3 separate regions of the Homo sapiens genome follow, and all the other regions are linked to region 2. Evidence: fine-mapped expression QTL. A gene starts in region 2. Each other region holds a variant in brackets. All regions are shown on one strand. Distances are between the middles of the regions.

What was found. PIP is the estimated chance that this variant, and not a neighbour inherited with it, causes the effect. A credible set is the group of variants that fine-mapping cannot tell apart.
Region 1: its variant is the best candidate, but not a certain one, in a credible set for the expression of GLS in whole blood (INTERVAL, PIP 0.80).
Region 3: its variant is the best candidate, but not a certain one, in a credible set for the expression of GLS in skeletal muscle (GTEx, PIP 0.68).

What each region holds. Positions count from the first base shown.
Region 1 is chr2:190,919,782-190,925,725 of GRCh38, reverse strand. GLS (glutaminase) reads right to left here. Exons shown (of 18, transcript NM_014905.5): 8 at 4,670-4,702; 9 at 4,523-4,581; 10 at 1,743-1,809; 11 at 1,133-1,183. Among named protein-coding and RNA genes, the nearest start is that of GLS, 42 kb to the right of the region's middle. The variant T/A (reference allele first, on the strand shown) is at 2,673.
Region 2 is chr2:190,877,558-190,883,501 of GRCh38, reverse strand. GLS (glutaminase) reads right to left here and starts at 2,681. Exons shown (of 18, transcript NM_014905.5): 1 at 2,032-2,681. The coding sequence starts at 2,417. It overlaps LOC124906110 (a long non-coding RNA gene), which reads left to right and starts at 1,514. Exons shown (of 2, transcript XR_007087791.1): 1 at 1,514-1,589; 2 at 1,934-5,944. RefSeq lists enhancers at 1,204-1,393, 558-1,757, 3,154-3,293 and silencers at 1,714-2,023, 2,084-2,173, 2,224-2,283, 2,624-2,883.
Region 3 is chr2:190,967,016-190,972,959 of GRCh38, reverse strand. STAT1 (signal transducer and activator of transcription 1) reads left to right here. Exons shown (of 25, transcript NM_007315.4): 25 at 2,243-3,811. The coding sequence ends at 2,257. Among named protein-coding and RNA genes, the nearest start is that of STAT1, 44 kb to the left of the region's middle. The variant A/G (reference allele first, on the strand shown) is at 3,656.

The DNA of each region.
Region 1 (5,944 bases), 42 kb before region 2:
CTGCAACCTGGACATCTATCAAAATCTAACTCATTATCAACCTCCCTTATATATTCTCTAAGATTACTGAAAGGTTAAAATTAAGGAACCTTTAATAGTAAAGACAGGCAAATGTAAGGTGAACTAGAAATTAACAATAATGTAGCCTCCTATGTGGCTTCACATTACAGCCCCATCAGTGGCACCAACTGTGTTAAATCTGTAAGAATAAATTGAGCTGAAAATGTGGGTGAAAGAAGAGATCTCCAGGAAGGCTATTCTAAATTGAGTTCTATACCATAGCCCATTGTGCGTAACACGGTCCCTCTCGCTCAACCCCACCCCCTCAATATTGAGAGCTACTCTAACTTACAAGAAAGCCCGACATATGACACTGCAGAAATGAACTAGCACCAGTTAAGCCAGGATAGAGTAGTAACAAAGAAATTACAAGATACCAAGTCAGCTGAGACACTGACACTTTTAAATGCTGAATAAGAGCCCTCTGATTTAAAAAATAAAAAAATAAAAAATAAAGCTTTTCCCAAACAAAATGTAAAAGCTACGAAAAATTTAGAGCCCAGTTTATAATTAAGAGTGCCAATTTCTGGGAGTGTTCATTATTTTTGACAATTCTTAAATATGTTTACAGAAAAAATTGTCCCCATTACATTTTGAGGCATGAATTTTTAGGCAACATGCATGGACATGAGACTGCCTTTTATGAAGACATTTTTGAAAGTCAATGGAAAATGTATTTTCTCATGGCCTAGAACCAAGATTTCTGAGACATCTATATTTTGCATAATGTGACACATCCATTTATTTATTTTGAGACGGAGTCTCACTGTGTCGCCAGGCTGGAATGCAGTGGCGTGATCTCGGCTCACTGCAACCTCGGCCTTCCAGGTTCAAGGGATTCTCCTGCCTCAGCCTCACAAGTAACTGGGACTACAGGCACACACTACCACACCCGAATAATTTTTGTATTTTTAGTAGAGATGGGGTTTCACCATGTTGGCCAGGATGACCTCTATCTCTTGACCTCATGATCCACCTGCCCTGGCCTCCCAAAGTGCTGGGATTACAGGCGTGAGCCACCGTGCCCAGCCGACACATCCATTTATATATACGATTTACATAATTAGATTACCTGGAAGTAGAAGTCTAATATACCAACCATGTCTGTGCCTTCTGGAAAACACTAAAAAAACCAGAAAGGCAATTAAAAATTCAGGCACACAGGAATGCACATAAGTAGAGAAATATATGAAAAATTTCAAATGTACACAAGTGTTTCATTTTAATTAATAAAATAGCATGTAACTTCTAAAAGAGTATAAACATGAAATAAAAAAGCAAAATTTTATCACATCATGTAAGTTTCTAGATACTAGTTTAACTGACAATGATAAAATGATTCATGATTTATAAATCAAGTTACTAGACCAGCCACTTAAAAAAATCAAGAGTAGTTAACAGTAATCAGGCATCATGCTTTTGAAAAAATAGACTAAACCTCAAACAAAATTTGTATTAATAAATAATATGAGTCAAATATTTAAATGCTGCCAGATACAAATCAAATTAACAATAACATTAACAATTTGATAACACTGACTCACGAGCACTCTGCAAAAACTTCTGCACCTTAAATAGTAATAGGTAGTTGCTTAAAGGCTATTGTTGAATTCTTAGCATACATCTTCATGTATTTTATTAAATGAAAGAATAATTTGAAATAGAAACAAAAATTTAAAAACCTTCTTTTCTTTTAAGTAATATCCTATTGCAAAATTTCGATCTCCACTTTCTCTTTCAGACTGAAACCTGGAAGAAGAAAAAAAAACATTTGCTCTATGTACTTTCTTTAAAAGTGTGATTGTTCATAATTTCATTTGCATAGCAATGTACAGCATAAAGAACACTGAACTAAGATTCAGGACTACAGAGTTCCAATCAATTCTGTCAATAGGCTATTTGTGTGACTTTGGACAAGTCATTTAAGTGGTAATTCTTTCAATCTTCATTTTCTTGGCTATAAAATGACTGAAACGAATTCAGGTCCTTTCTAGTCTTCATATTTTGTAAACAAAAATGCTAATTTTAAAATTCTCAAATCTTCTACCATTAAAATACACTGAAAAACTGCAGAATCCTCTGGCTACCCAAAAGTACAATAAGAGTCCATTTTAATTGACATAATCAGGGAACTTGACATAATCATGGAACTTTCACTGAGAGTGGGAAACACAAAATGGATCTTGCAGGACTCAATGGACTAATAGATTTCAGGGTGAGGCCTAGGCACTGGCAAATTCCATGCATCATGAACGGGTTAGAAAAGTATATAGACAGGGCTCCACTGAAGAATGGCAAATATTCTGATGTAACTGGGGAATGGCACATGGAGAGGAGTGGGAAAACATCAAACAAACAAAGGAGACTGGGACCAAATTATCAAAACCAATAGATGCCAAATAATTAATAGCTCCTGACTACCCACAAAACAAAAGCCTGAGGGCTTACAAAGAAGTTACCTAATCAGATCTGCATTTTGGAAAGATAACTCTGACATCAGTTTGAAAAAGGGGAAAAAGAAGTGATGACTGATCTATTAAGAGAATACTGTAATGAGAGCTACAAAAGCCTGAATTTAGGCAGCTGTGATAGGAATGGAAGGAGAGGTATGA[T/A]CAAATATGCAAGTAGTTGGATAATCTTCCAACCTGATGAGAAAAAGGAGAGGCAGAGTAAAGACTGATACAAAGCCTGAATTTCTAACATAGCCTGAGAGGATAATAATATTAACTGATACAGGGATCTATCTCTAGAGCAAAGAGCAGTTTGGAAAGAAAGAGAATGAGTTTTGATTTAGACAGATTTAATTTGCGGTATATTTGAGAATTGCCCTACAAGTCTAAAAGGGCTGCTGATATTAGAGGAACTGTGGTTAATGTTCTTTATATCACTGAGGTGGACAGCCCCTTCTAATTGCACATTTTAACATTTCAAATTCTTATCAATTTGCCGTACTTTTAAAAAAAACATCAACATAGTTTAGATAAATGACTAACTAGTCAGCAGTTATCACAGTGACTGACACATAGTTCTTCAACACTATCTCAAGTGCCTATTATCTGCCAGATAACAGGGATACAGAAATGAACTGGAAGACACAACATTCCATCTAGGTCTTAAGGAGGGCAGAGTCTAATGGTGGTTATGGGGCAAAGAGAGACATGTAATAAGTTTGATAAAATATGGTAACAGAAGAGCACAGAAAAGAGGCAAGTTGAGATTCATGGAATACTTCCTGGAAAAGATACTTAAGCTGATGAATTAATGTTGGGAAGCCATGCAACCTGAAAATGTTTACCCCTGAAATGCGAAGCAGGAAGTGCAAAATAAGAATAAAATAGTAGTATACATGCTAAAACTGTTTAACATAATAATATTACGATAACGTTTAACATTATAGTGTTTCTAATGACAAGGAACCAGACAAATACAAAATGGGAAACATCCACTATACGGCCTGCTGCCTGTTTTTATAAAGTTTTTTATAACACACCCTCATATTGTCTATGGCTGTTTTCTACTAAACAGCAGAACTGAGAAGTTACAACACAGACCGTATGGTACACAAGCTTAAAATATTTACTGTCTGGTCCTTCAAAGAAAAAGTCAGCAACCCCTGGTCTATAAAACAAGCAGCCTGCACTCTTTAAAAATAAAAGCCATTTAATAAAATTTGTGAAAGCAAGGGCACGGGGACTGTTCTAAGTAAAGAGACAAAACAGACATCGTAATAAATACAATGTAAGAACCTTGATTTGTTCCTGAATCTAAAAAATAATAATAAAAGTTGTAAAAGACATTTGGGGAAGAGATGGGGACATTTACATATTGATTAATGTCATGATATTTTAAAATTAACGTTAACGTTCTTACATGTGTTAATGGTATTGTGGTTATGTAGGAGAATGTCCTTATTCTTAGACTGTATGTGCTTTCTTATCTAAGGGTGAAGTATGATGCCTGCAACTTAATTTGAAATGGTTTAGGGAAAAAAAATCTATGTACATATATATTTACATATTTGTGTTTAGAGGTATACATACATATTTTTTATCTATCTAAAGAGACAGAGATTGAGAAAAAGCAAGTAAGACAAAATATTAGAAAATATAAGTAAAAGATTCCAGATATTTATTTTTTCAACTTTTCTATAGACTCACAAATTTTAAAATAAAAAATTGGGGTAAAAATCCAGATAGCCTGGAACAGAAATAGAAGAGAGGTAAGACAGGTATTACAAGCAAAGATAAAACTGAATAAGCACCAGTAATTTGAGATAAACTTGGGGTCTCTTCTGATTGTATGATTACCTGTAAGAAATTTGTCAAAACTATTTAAAGTATTTTTAAGTGTTTCTGTCAGGTAATTTAGAAATCATTCATTTCCCTCCAATGAAAAGAGAGTGGATCAATTCTAAATACAGTTGTGTGTTTTTACGTAACAAAACAGTATTTAAAACACTCACGTTGCATTACTGAATCCAACATATTCATTACCAGCCATCTTATTCAAAAACTGCATGACCTAGAAACCAAAAGTAGGGAATATTAGTAATCAAAAAACAAATATATAGAGAATGTGGCATGAAAACTGAATGACATGTTGCACTTACATAGTCAAATTTTTCAGCATTATTTACTCCTTGCTGCAAAAAAATAAGAGACATAAATACGTTAATATAGGTACCACTACAGTTAAGTTTCAAGCCAATATCAAAATTTCAAAGCTACTATTATAATATACTGCATTAGTATTTTTAAATCTAGGAAATAGTTCTAAAGTAATTTAACATTTATATAAACTTTTTTTCATGTTATTTAATACCCATATGTTGAGAATGCATTAGAATTACAAAGGGAATGCTTTATTTTAAGTATATCTTTACCCAACCCAAAGTTACAGAATTTTAAATACAAGTTACCATGAATTCCCTTATCTTTCATGACAGCACATAATTTGCTAAAATGTGTTATTTATTTAATCTTATATTTAAAAAAACTTAAAATAAAGTTTCACCCTTCGAAAAGAATTAAGTATATATAAAATATTTCAATTAAGAACAATCTACTTATATTTTATTAAATCCTTAAACTAATATCAGAGTTAGAAAAATGAATTATGTTGCAAAACTAATCTTTTAATTCCAGTATATGCAAACATTCTGGTTGCATTTTACTACTGCAGAGAAAGCTCTATTCTTAATAGCTCTCACTTGCTATAATATACTTGAACTAAAAAAAATTATATTTCACAGTCTCTAAAAAATTAGCTTCTGTTGTATTTAGCATTATGCCAATTCAGAATATGGAAGATGTATTGTTTCATCACTTTCATTTCTGACATGTTATCTACTGCAAATGTCAATAGGAAAAATCTATGTAATGTAGATCAGTTCAAGTAGCCAAATGGTTTCATTTTACCTCGGCGAAGTTTACAAAGCAGTAAGTTGTAGATCTGAAATCAAACGTATTAATTGGTGATATGCACCCAAAAGAAACAATACATCTCTAATTTCTAAAATAGGCTTAAAATAAAATAATTTGACAACTAAAGTTTTTAAAACATATTTTCTTTTACTTTACCCTCAAAAAACCCAAAACATTGTACTTTAAAATATTATGGGAGGAAAACCTGTACCAGAGAATTATTTAATTGAATAAAGCCAGGTTCATTCTTTACAAGAGGATTAGAGTGTGGCTGACAATATGTGAAAACCTACAAATCCACTTTTTTAAGAAAGATGTGCAATCACATATATACAATCAGTAGCTGGAAGGAACACCATACTATTTCATCAAAATTAGGCACTAACAAAACTTCAACAAGATTAAGGATAATTTAATTACAGCCATATTGTAATCACTATCTATGTATTTTCTCTAAAGTA
Region 2 (5,944 bases):
TTTAATTTTCTCATGGTTATTTCTTTTAATAATACTACATAAAATCTGGCACAGTCCTGAGTGAGTGCTAGCATACCAGGTGGACTGCTGACTGAGGGATGACCTATGCTTTGCAGGCTAAGCATTAGAAAGGATAACAGGATCAACTGGGAGCTTACCTCCCAGGATAAGAGAAATGTTTGTCACATAAAGGCAAAATGAAAGGAGCCAAAGAGGGAAAGCTACATTTGGAAACCAGATCATTAAGGAAATAGAAACTTTAACCAAATTAAAAAACTTTCTTCACAACCTTGAGGCCCTTGCTAAAAGGTGATTTTTTATTAAAAAGGCAATGAAACCAGAAACTTCTGGACAAGTGAATCACAGAAGAAGCTCAATTTCCTGTTTGACAAAAGAGGAAAAAAAAGAGAGGCACTAGAGCCACTGCAGAGACACAGACCTGAAGACATAATTTTACTAGAATGCAGTTCCCATCTTGTAGCCTTTAAGATGAACTTTTAAACGGTTGTGACTGCATTTTGCAATTCTGTACCTTGGGCACTTGCATGTAAACTCGTTACTTCCTTGGTAAACCGGATGATGTTAAAGTAAAAGTGAGTCCCAGATGAGATTAAATTATCATTCTAGTCCCTAAAACATGAGAGAAGTACAAATTTAACAGAAGTATAGCTTTTTAGAACTTGAAAGGATTTAAGTCATCTAACCCAAGATATTAAATAACCTGTCCATGGTCAGGACGCTATTTTGTGGCACAAAACCAACATCACAAAATACCACAAATTTCGCCCATCATCAAGTGATTTTTTTCAAATAATCTTTTTCAGTCTGGGAGAAGAACTTTAGAAAAGTTTCTGGAAGGTCCCAACTTCAATTACAGGAAAACATCAAGCAGGCGTGAGATTGAAATTATAACAATGTTCTCACTTTCAGTTTGACTTAAGGAACTCTAGAGCTGGAAATAGCAGCAGAAATAAAAGGGAAGCAAAACAGGTTAGAGTGTCAGCGTACAAAGCCAGAAAAAGAGTAAGGTATAATGAAAGCAGATCCGTAAATTTTTACCCATTTTGGGAAAACAAAGTGGTCCATTTGTATTACACAAGACAAAAATATATAGGAGACTGCTTTGCATATTGTTTAAGAAAAACCAGTTTTGCTTTAAGACTAAACTACTGTGCCGTACACATACAGGATGAGTCAACATCCTATCACAATGAAGTCACAAAACCTACTCAACTCAGATTTTTCACTGAGTTAGTGTATTACGTCACATTTCATCTTGGCTATTTAACTTTTATTTCTAAAAATCTCCCCATCTCACGGAAGACCTGACAAGCCAAAGCTGGTCCCTTATGCAAACAGGTGGTCTATACTGCGTGCCCCATCTTCTCGGCCACATGACCGGATTCCTCCTAATCTCACTTCTGAAACATTGTTTCCGGTGCCCCAGATGGCTCTACACGTGCCTGAGGTAGCCACTCCCGAAATATAAAGAGCTCTCTGTCACATCTGGCTTCCAACCGGATGATGGCAGAAACCAAGGGAGGGCAGGCAGAGCGGAAACGAGCCAGGAAAAGCGACAAGTCAGGAAGGTAAAGGCTCTGCTGAACGCCCAACTCCTAAATGTCACTCGGTGGAGATGTTCGTGCAGCATCGCCCACGAATGGCTGGGGCGGGCGGCCAGGCGCTGCAGCCGCAAGCCAGGGAGCTGAGCACGCAGCGCGGGCAGGGGAGCGGCCTCTCTGGCGCTGGGGACGCCAGGCGAGCCCATCAGGCCCCACCGCGGCCCCACCAGGGCGACCCCCGCCGGGGGCGGAGAAGGGAAGTGGGTGCCTGGCGGAGGGTTGCGGGCGGGGAAGGCGCGGGCGGGGCCGGGCCTAATCACATGGCGCAGACGGCGCAGGCCGCCCGGCACCTCTTTCTTTCTCTTTTCTAGACCCTCGGCTCCTATCCCGCCCCACCGCAGGGCCCCACACAGCCTGAGCCCGGGCCCCGAAAGGAACGAGGCCTCCTGCGCCTCGCGGAGACACTCACTTTTCACCTGAGGCCACCAGCTCTTTGCCCTCGCTGTTGCCAAACGCGTCCGTCTCCCCGGGGCCGTCCTTGGGGCCGGGCGCCGCCGGGGCAGCGGGTGGCGACACCCCGGGCTGCGGATGCGTGCTCCCCTTGCCCAGCTCCTGCAAGATCTCCGAAGGAGAGCTGGACAGGCCCCGCGCGAGGGGCTCCGCCGGCCAGCCGCCCCCGCCCCACCACGGGTGGAGTCGCGCGGCGGCAGCCGGGCCCGCGGCCGGCCGTCCCCCGCCTCGGGGACGCCGGCACAGGGTGACCAAGGGCTGTGCCCGCCGCAGAGTCGCGCTCACGCCGGCGGGCGACCGCAGGAGCAGGTCCCGCAGCATCCCCGAGCCTCGCAGCCGCATCATGCCGCCGGGTCCGTCAGCGCCCGCTCAACAGGGGAGGATGCTCCGGGCGTGGGCGGCCGGTTTCCTCGGGGAACGCGGTCTGTGGTGGGGCGGTGAGATGACAGAAGAGGAAAGGGCAGCTACTTGGGTGTGGTTCCGGCTCGGACTCCCGCAGCGGATGCGGGTGCTGCTGCTGCTGCTGCTGCTGCTGCTGCTGCTGCTGCTGCTGCTGCGCGCTAGGATTGCCGCGACCGGTTCTCTTCGCTCCGCCTAAGGCTCCGCACTGAGGCTAAAGCGCAGGGGAGGGCTAGAGACCTTCAGCGCTCGCCGACGGCCCGCCCCTTTCGCCCGCTGCGATTGGCTCAAATCCTCGACCTCTCTTTTGATTGGCGATTAGGGCAGTCAAATTTCTCTCGGCTCTGGGTGCGCGGAGAGTAGGGCGGGGGATTGGTGGGGGGCGGGGAGAGGAGTCAAACTGACGTGTGAAGCGGGTGAGCCAGGCCCGGCTGCTCAGTAGCCACTTTCTGCACGCCGTGCCAACTCCGAGGCTAGCCTAGTTGGGTACTAGGGGCTCTGGGTTCTCGCATTTATGAAGCAGTGGGCTCCTCCACTCTGGGAATTCGAGCTGTTGGGGAGACTCATGGGCGAGATCCCCCGCAGCCGAGGGCAGTGAGGTCAGCAGGTTTGGCAGGGCTGAGTCTGGCCGAGCTGTCGGAACTCAGCCGATCCCAGCTCGCATCTGGCCCCCAGGTCAGGGCGTCTGGCGACTCCTCCGAGAGCAGCCCCGGACAAGCTTCATCCCTCTCCCAAATGTAACATTTGCTTGAAACTTTCCATGATTGGCTACTACCCAGACGTGAAGTGTTTTGGAAAAAATGAGCAAAATCCTTTCAGCTATGCGACTTAAGCCATGGGAGGGTGGAGGTGGAGGGAGGGCGACGAGTGGCGAGGCGGGGTGGGGGGGTTGCGGAATCCAGAATACGACAGCTTTCTTTTTTAAAAATTATTTTTTTTAAATGTACACCGATACTTCAAAAATAGTTTTGAATAGCAATGATTCCGTTAACGCTATTTGCTTGAAAGCAAAACTGTAGATACTTTTCTATTTTAAAAACTGCTTCACTGTTTTAAAATAGAAGCGTTGGAATACGGGTTCTCTAAGTTATTTCAGCATCACTTTATCCATTTATCCTTTTGGACCTGTGGAAAAACAGCCAAGAACCTGATAAACTGAGTTATTCCCTGAGGCTACATACACATTACATTCCAGGACAAAAAAATGTTTTTAGACTATTTCCTGAAACAATTAGGTTTAAATGGAGTAGATCCACAGAGTTTAATAAGATGTTTTGGGGGTTGGTGTGTTGTTACTGTGTTGTTGTGTGTGTTCGTTTTGAGAAAGGGTCTCACTCTGTCGCCCAGGCTGAAGTGCAGTGGCGCGATCACGGCTTACTGCAGCCTTGAACTCAGGGGCCCCGGTGATCCTCCCACCTCAGCCAGCACCTGCTTTTTTTTTTTTTTTTTTTTGTATTTTTGGTAGAGACGGGGTTTCGCCAGGTTGCCCAGGCTGGTTTCGAGGGATCTGCACCCCCTGGGCCTCCCAAATTGCTGGGATTACAGGCGTGAGCCACCACGCCCGGCCTAATGAGGTGATTTTTATGAAACTAGAAGGGTGTATGTCAGGTGCATCATTAATTGATAACCGGATTTAGTAATCTAGTGAACTGTAAAATATTTCAATAGATTAATAATTAGGAAATCTGGCTGTACCTACAGGTTATGTGACCTTTGGCATGTTACAGCCTTGCCGTGTTTTAAGTTTTTTTTTTCTATCTGCTCTTTAACCAGAAGAACATGGAAAAAACTATCATGTGTAAAACATAGTCACCTTTTTTATTTAAAAAAAAAAAAGCAGGACAATGGGAAAGTACTTAGATAGCTTTTATTACTAATGTTACTTGTCCAAAAATGTTGATGAATCAAAGTAATGATATATTCAGGAATAGAGACATCAAGTTTCAGAGGAAAGGTAACAAATATTACCCCTGCCTAACCCTGACTTGTTAATGACTTGCAGACTTTAATATTGTCCAATATATTAGCTGCAATTAGTTATCAATTTTAACTGCCTCTTTTTTCTCAACAACACAAAGCAACTGACAATCCAGTTACTGTTTTCCTCTCAGTTTCTCCCTTAATTTCTCTGAGTTTCTTATGAAAATTGTTTTAGATATTTAAAGGTTTAAAGGCTTTATAGTTCACTTAACAAATAAGAAAGCTAACCTAGTAACAGATTATTTTCTAGAGTTTCTAGTTTCTAGAGTTTTATTTTCTGGTAGTTTCCAGACTTTCTGCTTTTGGTGAGAATGGATAGATATTACTCCCAAAATTTGGAAGAATTGAGTCCACTGAAATTTAACCCCTTGTTTGAGAAGGCTAATGAAAAGGTTATAGACAGCAAAGAAACTATTATAAATAGAATAAAAATGTGACTCAATACTTTCATTTGATTCTTTTCTTCATCTTATATAATTTTTTAATCTTTAAAGATATTTTTATCTACAACTTTGTAACCATTACACAACTTTGAAGTTTCAGTTATGTTAAATTGAATTATATCATTACATAAACTCATGTAATCATCATGTAAAAAGTATAAAAACATTTGTATACATACAATAAGTAGTCCACCAAAATATCTACAAATAGAAAAATGCTCTCCACATTAACTATGGTTGGGTTGTCAGATCTACTCTTCGACTTCCTTTTTGCTCCTAAGTGCAGCTACACTACAAAGAGTTGCTGTCCCATAGCCATCATCAGGTAATCAGCCATCAAAAGGAATAATTGGAATTTGTGCACTTTGTGTCTGTTCTAACTTGAAGAAAGGTTCCTGTGCTTCTATGTTCCTGAGCTTCTTTGTTCTGTCGAAGATTACAAAAGGCTAATGTTTCAAGATCATAATAAAATCCATATATAGGCCGGGCGCGGTGGACTCACACCTGTAATCCCAGCACTTTGGGAGGCTGAGGCGAGCAGATCACAAGGTCAGGAGATTGAGACCATCCTGGCTAACACGGTTAAACCCCATCTCTACTAAAAATACAACGATTAGCTGGGCGTGGTGGCACACACCTGTAATCCCAGCTACTTGGGAGGCTGAGGCAGGAGAATCACTCAAACCTGGGAGGCCGAGGTTACAGTGAGCCAAGATCGCACCACTGCACTCCAGCCTGGCAACAGAGCGATACTACATCTCAAAAAATAAAATAAAATAAGATAAAATAATATATATATATAGAAATTCCAGATTGCGCCTTCACAAAAACTAGTAGATTATTTGTTGACCTAGAACTAAAAAGAAAGTAATTTTCCTTTGACTAACAGCTTAAAAGAATTGCCTAAGCCTTTTTTTGAAATTCTTCTGTTTGGAGAATAGAGTAAGGTTCAGGAAGCCTCTAAACAAGCTTCTGCTACTACTTCCCTTTCTTCTGTTGGTTTCCTGCTTTAACTGGCCAAATTCCTAGCCTCACTGATAAGCCCTGCCA
Region 3 (5,944 bases), 89 kb before region 2:
ACATGTCAGGAAACAGTTTTGTGGTCTTTGGACACTCGCTGTAGCCATTCCGTTCCATTTCAGGTGATTTTATTCATTTCATTTGTAGAATAAAATAAATCCATTTCACACACACACACACACACACACACACACACACACACCCTCTATACACCACTAAAGCCTCCCATTAAACCCATAGAAGACTTAAAGAGCTAAAAGAGGCTATAATATAAAAAAAAAAAAAGAAAAGAAAAGAAAAAGAGTTCATAATATAGGCACGGCACTGGTTAGACAACGGTTGAATCAGTCTCTAAATTGGGTTGACTTCACAATGGTTTGCTGTCCTGCCCCTTGGCCATGACTTCCATCCAGCATCTACTCTTAGAATCAGAGTGTATACTCTGAAACAGAAGCAGCTCTCCCCAAGCTGGCTGTCTTCTGCCAAGTCTGGAGGTTGCAGCTCTGAAAGAGGGTGGTACCAGGGGCCAACGCCTGGTGCAGCCTCAGGAGCAACAGGACCATAGGCTCCTGAGGAAATTGTCCAAGAGAGCCAGAGCACCAGTGTTCTCTGCAGTATGACTTGGGCATTTGTTTAGTCTGGATTTCCTGTGTAATCAGTGTTTTCCTCTGGGACTGTAATAGAACCAGTCTACTCTCCAAGAGGCCTTTAGCCAAAGCTCATAATGATAGGACTAGCTATTAATTGTCTACTACTTTCTGTCTACTATACTAAACATTTTACGTATGCCATCTAATTTAACAAGCCTATCTGCTAGGTACTATTAATCCCCTTTTGATAGATGAAGACTTTGAGATTTAGAGAGGTTAAGCCACTTGCCCTGGTCACGCAGTGACAGGATCTGAATCTGGGCTTCCTCTCTTCCTCTATCTATCTATCTCCCCCTCCCTCCCTCTCTTTACCCCCACGGTCCACCCTATTAAGCACACATTTGAAACATCAGCCAGGCCGGGCGCGGTGGCTCACGCCTGTAATCTCAACATTTTGGGAGGCCGGGGCAGGTGGATCACCTGCGATCAGGAGTTTGAGACCAGCCTGGCCAACACGGTGAAACCCCATCTCTACTAAAAATACAAAAATTAGCCAGCCATGGTGGTGTGTGCCTGTAATCCCAGCTACTAGGGGGGCTGAGGCAGGAGGATCGCTTGAACCTGGAAGGTGGAGGTTGCAGTGAGCCAAGATGGTGCCACTGCACTCCAGTCTGGGCAACAGAGGAAGACTCCGTCTCCAATTTGAAAAAAAAAAAGAAAGAAAAAGAAAAGAGAAACATAAGCTAGACTGAAACATAGGGGCAACACTTTCACTGTGCTTTTCAATCCAAAATAATTTTCCTAAGAGCCCACTATGTACCACACACTATTGAGCACTTGGGATTAAAAAAAAGTTCTCCAGAGGCTTTCCAGTCTAGTGCCATGTGTCTCAGTCTTGGTGCTACTGGTATTCGGGGCTTCAGAATTATTTGTTGGGGATTGGTGGGGTGGGGAGCTTTCCTGTGCTTCGTAGGAGGTTCAGCAACACCTCTGGCTTCTACCAAATAGATACCAGTAAGCACATGCACCCTCACAGCCAGATGGGACAATCAGCAATGTCTTCAGCCATTGCCAGGGGACAGAATCATCCTCGATTGAAAGCATCTGGTCTAAGGGGAAAGACCAGTGTGGAAGTCAGACAGGAAGTCACTGGCAGGCTAGTATCCTTTGGATGAACAGTTTACTTACTATAAGTTGTCCTGGTCAAGGCAGCTGGGCAGAAGGCACTGGTGGGGAAGGTGAAGGGGTTCTTAGTAATTCTGCTTCTTTAGTCTGTACCTGAAACACAGTCATTGATTTTACCCACTGAGTGGCCTTTAGGGGAAGTGTATCATTTCCCTCTCCTTCCTCTCTCCCTCTGGCATATGGCTCAGCATTTCCTCACCCGTTTCACATGAGCAGATTTGACACGTTGCTCTGTCCCCAGACTTGCATAACAGCAAAAAGCTTTATGCAGTCTGGATGGATTCACAAAATTAAGCCAGTGGGCAGCAGAGTAATAATCCGTCAGCTTAGGTGATATAAAAGGTCTTGATTAGCCCAGGATAATACATAGTACATGCTGAAGGCCCTCTTATTCCACGGTATTTATTTGCCATTGCAAGTATCTTCCTACTACTTCATTCTAGAATAGACAAGCAATGTTTAATGTATGAGTCTGCATTTCACAAGATCAGTGTAATAAACTTAACCACATTTTGTCTTTTTACAGATGAACACAGTATAGAGCATGAATTTTTTTCATCTTCTCTGGCGACAGTTTTCCTTCTCATCTGTGATTCCCTCCTGCTACTCTGTTCCTTCACATCCTGTGTTTCTAGGGAAATGAAAGAAAGGCCAGCAAATTCGCTGCAACCTGTTGATAGCAAGTGAATTTTTCTCTAACTCAGAAACATCAGTTACTCTGAAGGGCATCATGCATCTTACTGAAGGTAAAATTGAAAGGCATTCTCTGAAGAGTGGGTTTCACAAGTGAAAAACATCCAGATACACCCAAAGTATCAGGACGAGAATGAGGGTCCTTTGGGAAAGGAGAAGTTAAGCAACATCTAGCAAATGTTATGCATAAAGTCAGTGCCCAACTGTTATAGGTTGTTGGATAAATCAGTGGTTATTTAGGGAACTGCTTGACGTAGGAACGGTAAATTTCTGTGGGAGAATTCTTACATGTTTTCTTTGCTTTAAGTGTAACTGGCAGTTTTCCATTGGTTTACCTGTGAAATAGTTCAAAGCCAAGTTTATATACAATTATATCAGTCCTCTTTCAAAGGTAGCCATCATGGATCTGGTAGGGGGAAAATGTGTATTTTATTACATCTTTCACATTGGCTATTTAAAGACAAAGACAAATTCTGTTTCTTGAGAAGAGAATATTAGCTTTACTGTTTGTTATGGCTTAATGACACTAGCTAATATCAATAGAAGGATGTACATTTCCAAATTCACAAGTTGTGTTTGATATCCAAAGCTGAATACATTCTGCTTTCATCTTGGTCACATACAATTATTTTTACAGTTCTCCCAAGGGAGTTAGGCTATTCACAACCACTCATTCAAAAGTTGAAATTAACCATAGATGTAGATAAACTCAGAAATTTAATTCATGTTTCTTAAATGGGCTACTTTGTCCTTTTTGTTATTAGGGTGGTATTTAGTCTATTAGCCACAAAATTGGGAAAGGAGTAGAAAAAGCAGTAACTGACAACTTGAATAATACACCAGAGATAATATGAGAATCAGATCATTTCAAAACTCATTTCCTATGTAACTGCATTGAGAACTGCATATGTTTCGCTGATATATGTGTTTTTCACATTTGCGAATGGTTCCATTCTCTCTCCTGTACTTTTTCCAGACACTTTTTTGAGTGGATGATGTTTCGTGAAGTATACTGTATTTTTACCTTTTTCCTTCCTTATCACTGACACAAAAAGTAGATTAAGAGATGGGTTTGACAAGGTTCTTCCCTTTTACATACTGCTGTCTATGTGGCTGTATCTTGTTTTTCCACTACTGCTACCACAACTATATTATCATGCAAATGCTGTATTCTTCTTTGGTGGAGATAAAGATTTCTTGAGTTTTGTTTTAAAATTAAAGCTAAAGTATCTGTATTGCATTAAAT[A/G]TAATATGCACACAGTGCTTTCCGTGGCACTGCATACAATCTGAGGCCTCCTCTCTCAGTTTTTATATAGATGGCGAGAACCTAAGTTTCAGTTGATTTTACAATTGAAATGACTAAAAAACAAAGAAGACAACATTAAAACAATATTGTTTCTAATTGCTGAGGTTTAGCTGTCAGTTCTTTTTGCCCTTTGGGAATTCGGCATGGTTTCATTTTACTGCACTAGCCAAGAGACTTTACTTTTAAGAAGTATTAAAATTCTAAAATTCTATTAATCTCTCATTAATAGTATTTAATATAAAGATTCTTAAAATTACTGACGTTATGAATTGGTTTGATGCTTTTCTCATGTACCTCAATCCTTATTTTAAAATAAGATCAATAACACTATTTTCCTAAATGTTGTCCTTACCTGCCCTACACATATTCAGAATTGCTATGGCAGATTAAGACATGTCAATGGAAGAGGTCAGAGGAGTAATATTATTGGCAACAGCTGTAATAGGTGCCATAAAAAGCAAACAAACAAAAGTATTTTGGTTCTTTGCGACCACAGCTGTCCCCAAATATACAGATGATTCAGCACTTATTTTAAAATGAATCTGGGTATTGCTAATACCCCCAAATTAGCAGTTTTTAATTTTAAAATACATGAGAAATGGGACTTTGTCTTGTCTCCAAAGCAGTCATCTAAAATCTACACCCCCACGATTAGATGAGTTATTACTGAGAAGTTATTGCACCCACAAAAAAGCTGCCATTTTTTTCCAAAGATGTCAAAAGCTAGAAGGCCAGGTCTTCTCAAAGTAAAATACACTGTGTATTGGGGAAAAAAGGGTAAGAGGCATAATTACCAAGTTAGGCATAGTCTGTCAAGTTGTATTTAGCTATTATCATGGAATAGTGTTATTCCCTGATAATGAATGTTGGCATCATAACCAGAATGATTATTCTCATCTCCATATCTTCGTATTTACATCTAGGAAATATAAAGCTTATTTATAGTGAACACTGAGAGTGGTCTCTCTCCAAGGAGTAAAGTAAATATGCCCTGGCTAACTAGTGTAAGTTTGTATTCTACATAATTAACCATTATAAGAAGTCACTGAGTAGATCCTAACTTAAGGGATATTTGTTTGTGTTTGAGTATTTCTCGTGTGGTGTTTCTAAGTTTGAAAAGTGTTTTATAAGCATAGAGCTTATGTGTGCTACTGGGGACAAATGTCTCATTTTAAAGGAAAGAGGGTTTTCTGAGATGGCATGAAATGAGTGAAATCTATTTATTGCCTGAAAGCTAAAGTGGAATATGAAGGCAAGTCTTTCTGAACAGAGCAGTCCTGTCACTGACTAACCCAGGGAAAGGACAGGAAAAAGCTAGAAAGTGTTTTGAAAACTCTTCTGCTTACCTTTTGAATTGGGACATTAACAAAGTAAGGACCATTTATGTGACTGGCTTCCTTTGGTTAGTTATGATTCATTCATTAATTAATTCATCAGATTTATATAGAGCACCTGCCATGAGCCAGGCATTATACTAGATGTTTGGGAAACATTGGTAAACAAAAGCAAAGATCCCTGCTTTTATGGAACTTAAGATATTCTGAGACACTGGATCATACATTCTAGTGCAGTCACCTTATTAAAACTTAAGATTTTGTGATGCAAACAAACAGCCAGAAGCTACAAATAATGTAAATGTTATATTTAAAAAATACAATTTCAAAGAAATGACATTTAAACCAGTTTTAGGAAAGCTGAAGACAATATTGCTTTTAGAGCTTTTTAAGATCAGTTTATATTGCTCTTAAATGATAATCCTCAGCTTCCAAGTTTTTGTGAACTCACTTTGGTTTATGTGTTTGCTACACTCACTGAGAAATTAAACACCTTGCTTGATTTATTGTAAAAAGGAAAAAACAACAGAGCCATACTTAAGCAGTCTTAAACTTATTTATTAACGTTATCTTGAGTCTACAGAGAACAGAAAGCTATCTAAGAGGTAGAAAGCTGTCAAATACCTATTATCAAACTCTGAATTCTCCTATAATATTTCATAAAGCTATTATAACACCTTAATACCTTACTGTCAGTGTCTGTTTGCAGCCTTTCCACATTTCTTCTACATAATTGAAACAGTCTTGATATTCTTTTGCCATTGGGACTGCTTGTCAGACACACTTCATTGCAGCCTTTTATTGGCTATTTGGAAAGGAAGCAAGGGGTACAGTGGGGGCGCACACAGGCCTGGAGTCTGGTTCATTCTCCAGAATAGAAATAAAACCCCCCAGT